Linked DNA regions of Homo sapiens. The protein of the gene in region 2 interacts with the protein of the main gene of each other region in a pairwise test. Each region holds a gene or a part of one and is shown on either strand. Other genes may lie near its edges.

What was found.
Region 1: the proteins of TECR (region 2) and STOM interact in binary tests that used the Homo sapiens proteins (3 or more experiments, as listed by UniProt).

Annotation. Positions count from the first base shown.
Region 1 is NC_000009.12:121,349,651-121,353,399, forward strand, and holds part of STOM (stomatin), read right to left. Parts: intron 3,653-3,749; coding exon 3,570-3,652; intron 1-3,569. UniProt on the Homo sapiens protein: Regulates ion channel activity and transmembrane ion transport. Regulates ASIC2 and ASIC3 channel activity.
Region 2 is NC_000019.10:14,527,968-14,531,716, reverse strand, and holds the start of TECR (very-long-chain enoyl-CoA reductase), read right to left. Parts: upstream 2,124-3,749; 5' UTR 2,021-2,123; coding exon 2,006-2,020; intron 1-2,005. UniProt on the Homo sapiens protein: Involved in both the production of very long-chain fatty acids for sphingolipid synthesis and the degradation of the sphingosine moiety in sphingolipids through the sphingosine 1-phosphate metabolic pathway.

The DNA of each region.
Region 1 (3,749 bases), on a different chromosome or scaffold from region 2:
GTGATACCTGAATTGAATCTTGAAGAAAGGAATACAATTTTTCTGAGGGTGTTGGGTGGAGTGGAAGAATATTCAAGAGAGAGGCACTAGAGAGTCAAGGTTTGATAAACTACAAGTTCCACAATATTACTGGAACAAAAAGTGCATGGGGAATGTTTTTAAAGGGCAAGGTCAGCATCAAAACATATTTTACAGCATGCTACATAAAAATGCTAAACATGACATATTTTTGTTTTAAGCTAAGAAGTTATCTGAGTGAGAGGCTCCAGGAAAATAGTTACATCCATCACTTAAAACTCACTGGGACTCAGTTTTCTCATTTGTAAAGTAGAGATTAATTATAGTACCTACTTTGCATTCTTGCTAGAATTAATGCGTTAAATACATTCAAGTGCTCAGAAAAGTTCCTGGCACGTAAGAGCTGTCTTATTATTTCATCTTGGATAATGGTGGTAACTTTACTGAATAAAACACTGACTTGATTAACTGTAATAAGTTAATTTAGATAATAATAAACAAGCCAGCTGGGCATGATGGCATACACCTGTAGTTTCAGCCACTCAGGAGGCTGAGGCAGGAAGATTGCTCCAGCCTGGGAATTCCAGCCTCTCTCACTAACAACATCAGGCTGGCACCTTTCTACTGATCATTTAAATGTCCTTCTCTCTGTGAAACTTTCTTGGCTTACTTGGCAGAGTTAAGCACTCTTCCCTTGCACATCCACTGCACCTTACTGTAGTGACATTATTTATTCACATTTCTACTTCTCTCTTAGACTATGAATTTCTTCAGGGCAATTCTTTGTAACTCTAACACTGGCAGAGTGCTTGAAACATAGCGGGTAGTCAATAAATGAGAGAGGAGCTGAACTGAAATGTGGTCCTGAGAACAGTGACCGATGAGGAACACAGCAGTGAGAGTTAGGAGACCTGAACTGAGTCCCATCTCTGCCTTCAGGTCCCTGGATGGCCTCTAGCAAGGTTTTTAACCCATTTGACCAACAGATTCCTCATTTGTGAGATGGCGCTAATAATACTGCCTAATTCTATCCAAATTTCTGTGAAGATCAAATAAGAACATACTTGTGAATGAAGCCCTTTTGAAAGAGTAAACAGCTATGAAAATGGAAGGTAATAATAACAATGTTGTAACATGGCTGTTTAGCCCTGCCAGACATCAAAGCAGTGATCCTTTTTTAGTAATCTCAAAATACTTCTAACATGGAAGAGAAGTGGAGGATTTATAAATAAATGTACAGTGTATTACCATCTTGTATGAAAACTAATTATTTCCCATGACATGATGGGAAAATGTGTGTCATTCCCAAATTCTTGCCACTTTGACTTTGCCACAGCTTCTTTCTAAAGCTACAGCTTCTCTGCCTACTGTTTATCATCGGCAAGGGTTTATCTCCCTTCACAGAAACTTCACAGGGGATCAGAAAAAGGATTGCTGCCAAGTTCCAATCTGCTTTGCATTCAGCAGCTTGCAGAATAGGAGAGGGCCACTGGAAAGCAGAAGCTTAAACAGCAACTCTGCCAGATGTCTGTAATGTTTATAGTGGAAAATGCCAGAATGTCCAGCTACCCTGAAGGGCTCCTTCTGAGACTCAATCTTCCTTAGACGATGGGAAAACACACAGAGAATACAGTGATACTCTCAGTCTTGTTCTTATGAGTAAAATGTGGGCAAAATGATTCCTGGCATCACTAACTTTGGGTGGATTATAAAGTCTGACCCCACCCACTTCTTGGATCAGTACCAACAAGGAAGTTCCTAAGCTGGTTTCTGGTATTTGTGACATGAGAAGGCAACATGGCCAGGCTCCATCACCATGCTGAGTATCTGGCCTTTGGCCAGGAAACACTGACAGCATTCTTCTGTCCTTCCCCCTTCATGATGTTTTCAGGTTTTCTGTATGCAACGGTTATTAAGTCTCCTAAGGACATGGTTCCCAGGATGGCCATCACTTTTTCGGGGGCTATGAGGGAGCTCATGTACAATGCATTTAGCATGGAGCTGTGGAAAAAACAGCACTATACAAAGAATCCGAAGAGCTCAATTTTAGTCTTGGCTCTGCCACTGTAATCTGGAGGAATTCCTTTGTTTCACTGCAACTATATACTTTCTAGGGATTCTGCCATGAGTTTCATCTATGATAATACTTGTGAAGTAGTTTGAAAAGGCACAAAATAATCACTAGTATAAAATATTATGTTTTATCTAAAATGCCCAACAAGCAGTTTCTAATTCTTTGGTTTCTAACCAATTTATCTAGAATAAAACCTTAAGAAAAAAAATAATGAACTAATAGGGTTTTCTATCAGAAACCCATAGAAGAGAAATGTGGTAGTAAAAATGTTGATAGTAATAACAATGATGATATTATTATACTTACATTAGCATTACACTATGTTTTGTAATAATCATTCCTCGGTATCTGTGGGAGATTGATTCTAGGACCCTCAGAGGATACCAAAATCCAAGGATGCTCAAGTCTCTTATATACAGTGGCACAATATTTGCATATAACTTATGCACATCCTCCTTTATACATTAAATCCTTTCTGAAGTACTTATAATACTTAACACAATGTAAATACTACATAAATAGTTGCTATACTACACCGTTTTTAAAAATTTGTATTATTGTATCATTGTCAATTGCTTTTTTCCCTAAATATTTTTGATCCATGGAGCCAACCGTATAATCTATGTACATTTTCCTGTACACTTTAAATCATCTCTAGATTACTTCTATTATCCAATACAATACCTACACATCACTTTATTCATGTGGATTCAATGCCATGCTTGATGCATGGCAAATTCAAGTTTTGCTTTTTGGAACTTTGTGGAGTTTTTTCCTAATATTTTCAGTCTGCGGTTGGCTGAATCCCTGTATGCAAAACCCATGCATGCAAAGGGCCAACTGTAATAGTAACAGTAAGAACTTATATAGCACTTACTATTTGTCAGCCATTGCTCTAAGCACTTGGCACATATATCTCACTTCTCAGAACCACCTTATACAGTAGTTCTTACTATTACAAATGTCTATTTTCTGGATGAGGAAACTGAGGCACAGAAAAGTTAAAGAACTTGCTTAAGGTCACTGAGCTAGAAATGCTGAAGGCAGTCAAGGTCTAAAGCCTGTGCTCTGGCAGGGAACGGTGGCTCATGCCTGTAATCCCAGCACTTTAGGAGGCCAGAACGGATCACCTGAGGTCAGGAGTTCGAGACCAGCCTGGCCAACATGGCAAAATCCCGTGTCTACTAAAAATACAAAAAAATTAGCCGGGCGTGGTGGCGCACATCTATAGTCTCAGCTACTCGGGAGGCTGAGGCACGAGAATCACTTGAACCCAGGCGGCGGAGGTTGCAGTGAGCTGAGATCACACTACTGCACTTCAGCCTGGGTGACAGAGCAAGATTCCAATTAAAACAAACAAACAAACAAACAAAAATTTAAAATAAATAAATAAATAAAGCCTACACTCTAACTATTCTGTCCCTCATTGTAAAGCACTTTCACATATGATACCTCAGTTATTCAAAGAAAACCTTACCTCCTGAGGAGGAATATCAAATGAAATAGTTCTCATGTCCACTTTGATGAAGCTGTCAGTGCATGGCAGAATAAAAAACAAACCTGCAACAAAGATACACACATTATACAGACACCAGCAACCTAATCAGTTCACTTCTCCATTCAGTTTTAAGAAAATCAACCTAGTGAACTGAAAAGT
Region 2 (3,749 bases):
GGCACCGTGGCTCATGCCTGTAATCCCAGCACTCTGGGAGGCCAAGGTGGGTGGATCACCTGAGGTCGGGAGTTCGAGACCAGCCTGACCAACATGGAGAAACCCTGTCTCTACTAAAAATACAAAATTAGCCGGGCATGGTGGCTCATGACTGTAATTCCGGCTACTCAGGAGGCTGGGGCAGGAGAATCACTTGAACCCGGGAGGTGGAGGTTGCGGTGAGCCAAGATCACGCCATTGCACTCCAGCGTACTCAACAAGAGCGAAACTCCGTCTCAAAAAAAGGCTTCAAAGGATTGTGGGTAAATTTCCAAAAATAGTAGCAATAAAGGGGGCAGGAGGCAGAGGTAGTAATATTCAACTTGTCAATAAAAACAAACAGCCGGGCGCACTAGCTCACACCTGTAATCCCAGTACTTTGGGAGGCCGAGGAGGGCAAATCACTTGAGGTCAAGAGTTTGAGGCCAGCCTGGTCAACATGGTGAAACCCCCATCTCTACTAAAAATACAAAAAATTAGCCGGGCATGGTGGCGGTCACCTGTAATCCCAGCTATTCAGGAGGCTGAGGCAGGAGAATCGCTTAAACCCAGGAGGCGGAGTTTGCAGTAGGCCGAGATCGCGCCATTGCACTCCAGCCCGGGCAATAAGACCGAAACTCTGTCTCCAAAAGAAAAAAAAAATCCTTCTACGTATCCAAGGTACCTAGAGTAGTCAATTCATTAAGACGGAATGGTGGCTGAGTAGAATGGTGGCTGCCAGAGGTGGAGGTGGAGAGGAATGGGGAGTTAGTATTTAACGTCTACAGCTTCTGTTTTCCAAGATGCAAAGAGTTCTGGAGATGGGTGGTGGTGATGGTTGCACAACAATGTGAATGTTCTTAATGCCACTGAACTGCACACTTAAAAATAGTCAAGATGGTAAATTTTATGTGTATTTTGCCAGAATTTTTTAAATTGGAGGGGAAGTGAGAAACAAGAAATCGCTCGACCTGCTATTTTTCATTTGAGGACCAGCATGGCATAGTGGCTAGGAACTAAGACCTTGGCGTCCTGAGTTCCCCTATCTGTTTTGCATTTACTAACTAGGGGCCTTTGAACAAGTCACTTTATATCTCTGAGACTTTATTCATCCTTACAAACAGGAATAATAATAGTTCTTATACAAGGTAACAGAATCTCACCAGCACAAGAGTAAGCACTTGCTAAATTGTTATTTTGAATTTTAATAACAAATTTTATTATTTGATGATAGTTACTTAAAAGTCAGCAATAATTCAGGGATAATTGGTTGAATTATTAATATTATATTATCACCTAGGGCGATAAGCACATCAGAAGACTTCGTTTTAAGGGAAAAAGAGACCCAAGTTAGGAGTCAGAAGACTTGGGCTTCAAGAGTGGCTGTGGGTGGGTATAAGATTTCTCCTTGGTGACACCCAAGGGTTGACGTAGATGACCTCTTTGATAACCAGAAAGCAAGATCAGCTTCGCTGCTCTGCGAAAGCCAGCCGTGGAGCTGCACCTCCCTCACCGCCTAAGTCTCCCGGGAACGTCCCGGGCGAGGGAAGGGGTCCAAAGGTCGTACACAAGAATACTGATAGCAAAGCCCCTTCCTACGCTGGTGACGGCGGCGTGGCGCAAGATTTGTGCAAGACTCCCTCGGATTGGGAGCAAGGGTCCCGCACCTTCGTGGCTCCCATGACAAAGTCTGCAACTCAGCCCGCTGGGGGAGCTGCAAGGAACCTGCAAGCGTCCCAGCCCCTGCAGAGACCCCCAAGAAAAAGTACCCCCAAAACAGCCTGGGTTGCAGATTTATAAATACTTCCTGCGCACATGCGCATTGGAATTTACGAGTGGCCCGGGGCGCAACGCTTGCCCACTGCGCCTGCGCCGTCTGGCTCTTCCTTCGGGGCACAGGACCAGAAAGTGGGGTCCCGTGGTCCCGCAAAGAAGGAAAAAGAATGGGTCAGCAGTGGCCACACGGCCCCTGTTTCTCGCTTCTTACCTCGTAATGCTTCATGGCTCCCTCCCACGGCGGCTACTGCTCCGCGGCTGCTGCTGCCTAACTGCGCGGCACAGCACAGGCTCCCTACAGCGCTCGCAACCGCAGCGATAGACTAAACGCGGCTCTGCGTCCGCCCCGCCCCTCCAGGCCGCGCGCGCCCCGTCGGCCAATCAGGGCACGAGGCGCCCACGTTCGCCCCTGCTCCTTGGGGCCGGTCCGAACCAAGACTAGGACTAGCACCAGGGGATTGACCAATCAACTTGCGAGACCAATCGAAGGGGGCGGAACGCCTGTAGGAGGGGCTAAAGAGAAGGGGCTTGACCATCCACCAATCCAAAGGAGGTCTCTGCCCCGCGCGTCCCTTTGCCACGCCCCCTGATGGCGTCGCTGTGGAAACCAAGGTAAGCGACGGTTAGGCCAGACGCGGGGGCGGGGTAAGAAGTTGAGTGACAGGCAAGGCAGCATCCACATGACAGGCGGCGCCGAAGGGGTAAATTCTGAGGTGGGCGGCCCCCGGGGTACACCGGGAACAGCAGGAGAGGGCTAGGGGCTGGGGTCGCGGGCTGCGGAGTCTGGTTGGCGAGGAGGTCACTATGGGAGGAGACTCTTGAGTGGGAGGGAAGGAAAGGCGAAACGGAGTCGCGAAAAGCTCCCCATTTGGGAACCCCCAACCTGCAAGAACCTTGAGCCCCAGCCCCATTCTGGGGTGGCTTCACTGCCGTTTTTAATGAAAGCCCCGCCCCACTTTGTTTTTCTGTTTTGTTTTGTTTTTGAAACAATCTCGTTCTGTCCCCCAGCTGGAGTGCAGTGGCGCAATGACGGCTCACGCAACCTCCGCCTCCCGGGTTCAAGCGATTCTCATGCCTCAGCCTCCCAAGTAGATGAGATTACAGGCACCCGCCACCACGCCCGACTAATTTTTGTATTTTTTTTAGTAGAGACGGGGTTTCCCCATGGTTGGCCAGGCTGGTCTTGAACTCCTGACCTCAGGTGATCCTCCCGCCTCAGCCTCCCAAAGTGCTAGGATTACAGGCCTGAGCCACCCCGCCCGGCCCCCCTCCACACTTTGCTCCGCCCTATGGACAGGGGAACTACATTGGTCTCTGCCTGACGTCCAGAATCGTGTCTAGTGGCTCCAATGGGGCCACTGAGCCCTTGAAATGGGGCTGGTCCAGGCCGGGAACGATGGCTCACACCTGTAATCCTAGCACCTTGGGAGGCCGAGGGGGGCAGATCACGAGGTGAGGAGTTCGAGACCAGCCTGGCAGATATGGTGAAACCTCATCGCTACTAAAAATACAAAAATTAGCCGGGCGTGGTGGTACACACCTGTAGTCCCAGCTAATCAGGAGGCTGAGGCAGAAGAATTGCTTGAACCCGGGAGGCGGAGGTTGCAGTGAGCCAAGATCTCGCCACTACACTCCAGCCTGAGCAACAGACCGTCTCAAAAAAAAAAAAAGAAAAAAGAAAAAGAAATGGGACTGGTCCAAATTGAGATGTGCTGTAAATGAAAAACACATAAATTTCTGGCCAGGCACGGTGGCTCACACCTGTAATCCCAGCACTTCGGGAGGCCAAGACAGGCAGATCACATGAGGTCAGGAATTCAAGACCAGCCTGGACAACGTGGTGAAACCCTGTCTCTACTAAAAATACAAAAATTAGCCAGGTGTAATGGTGGGCACCTGTAATCCCAGCTACTAGGGAGGCTGAGAATCGCTTGAACCCGGGAGGTGGAGGTTGC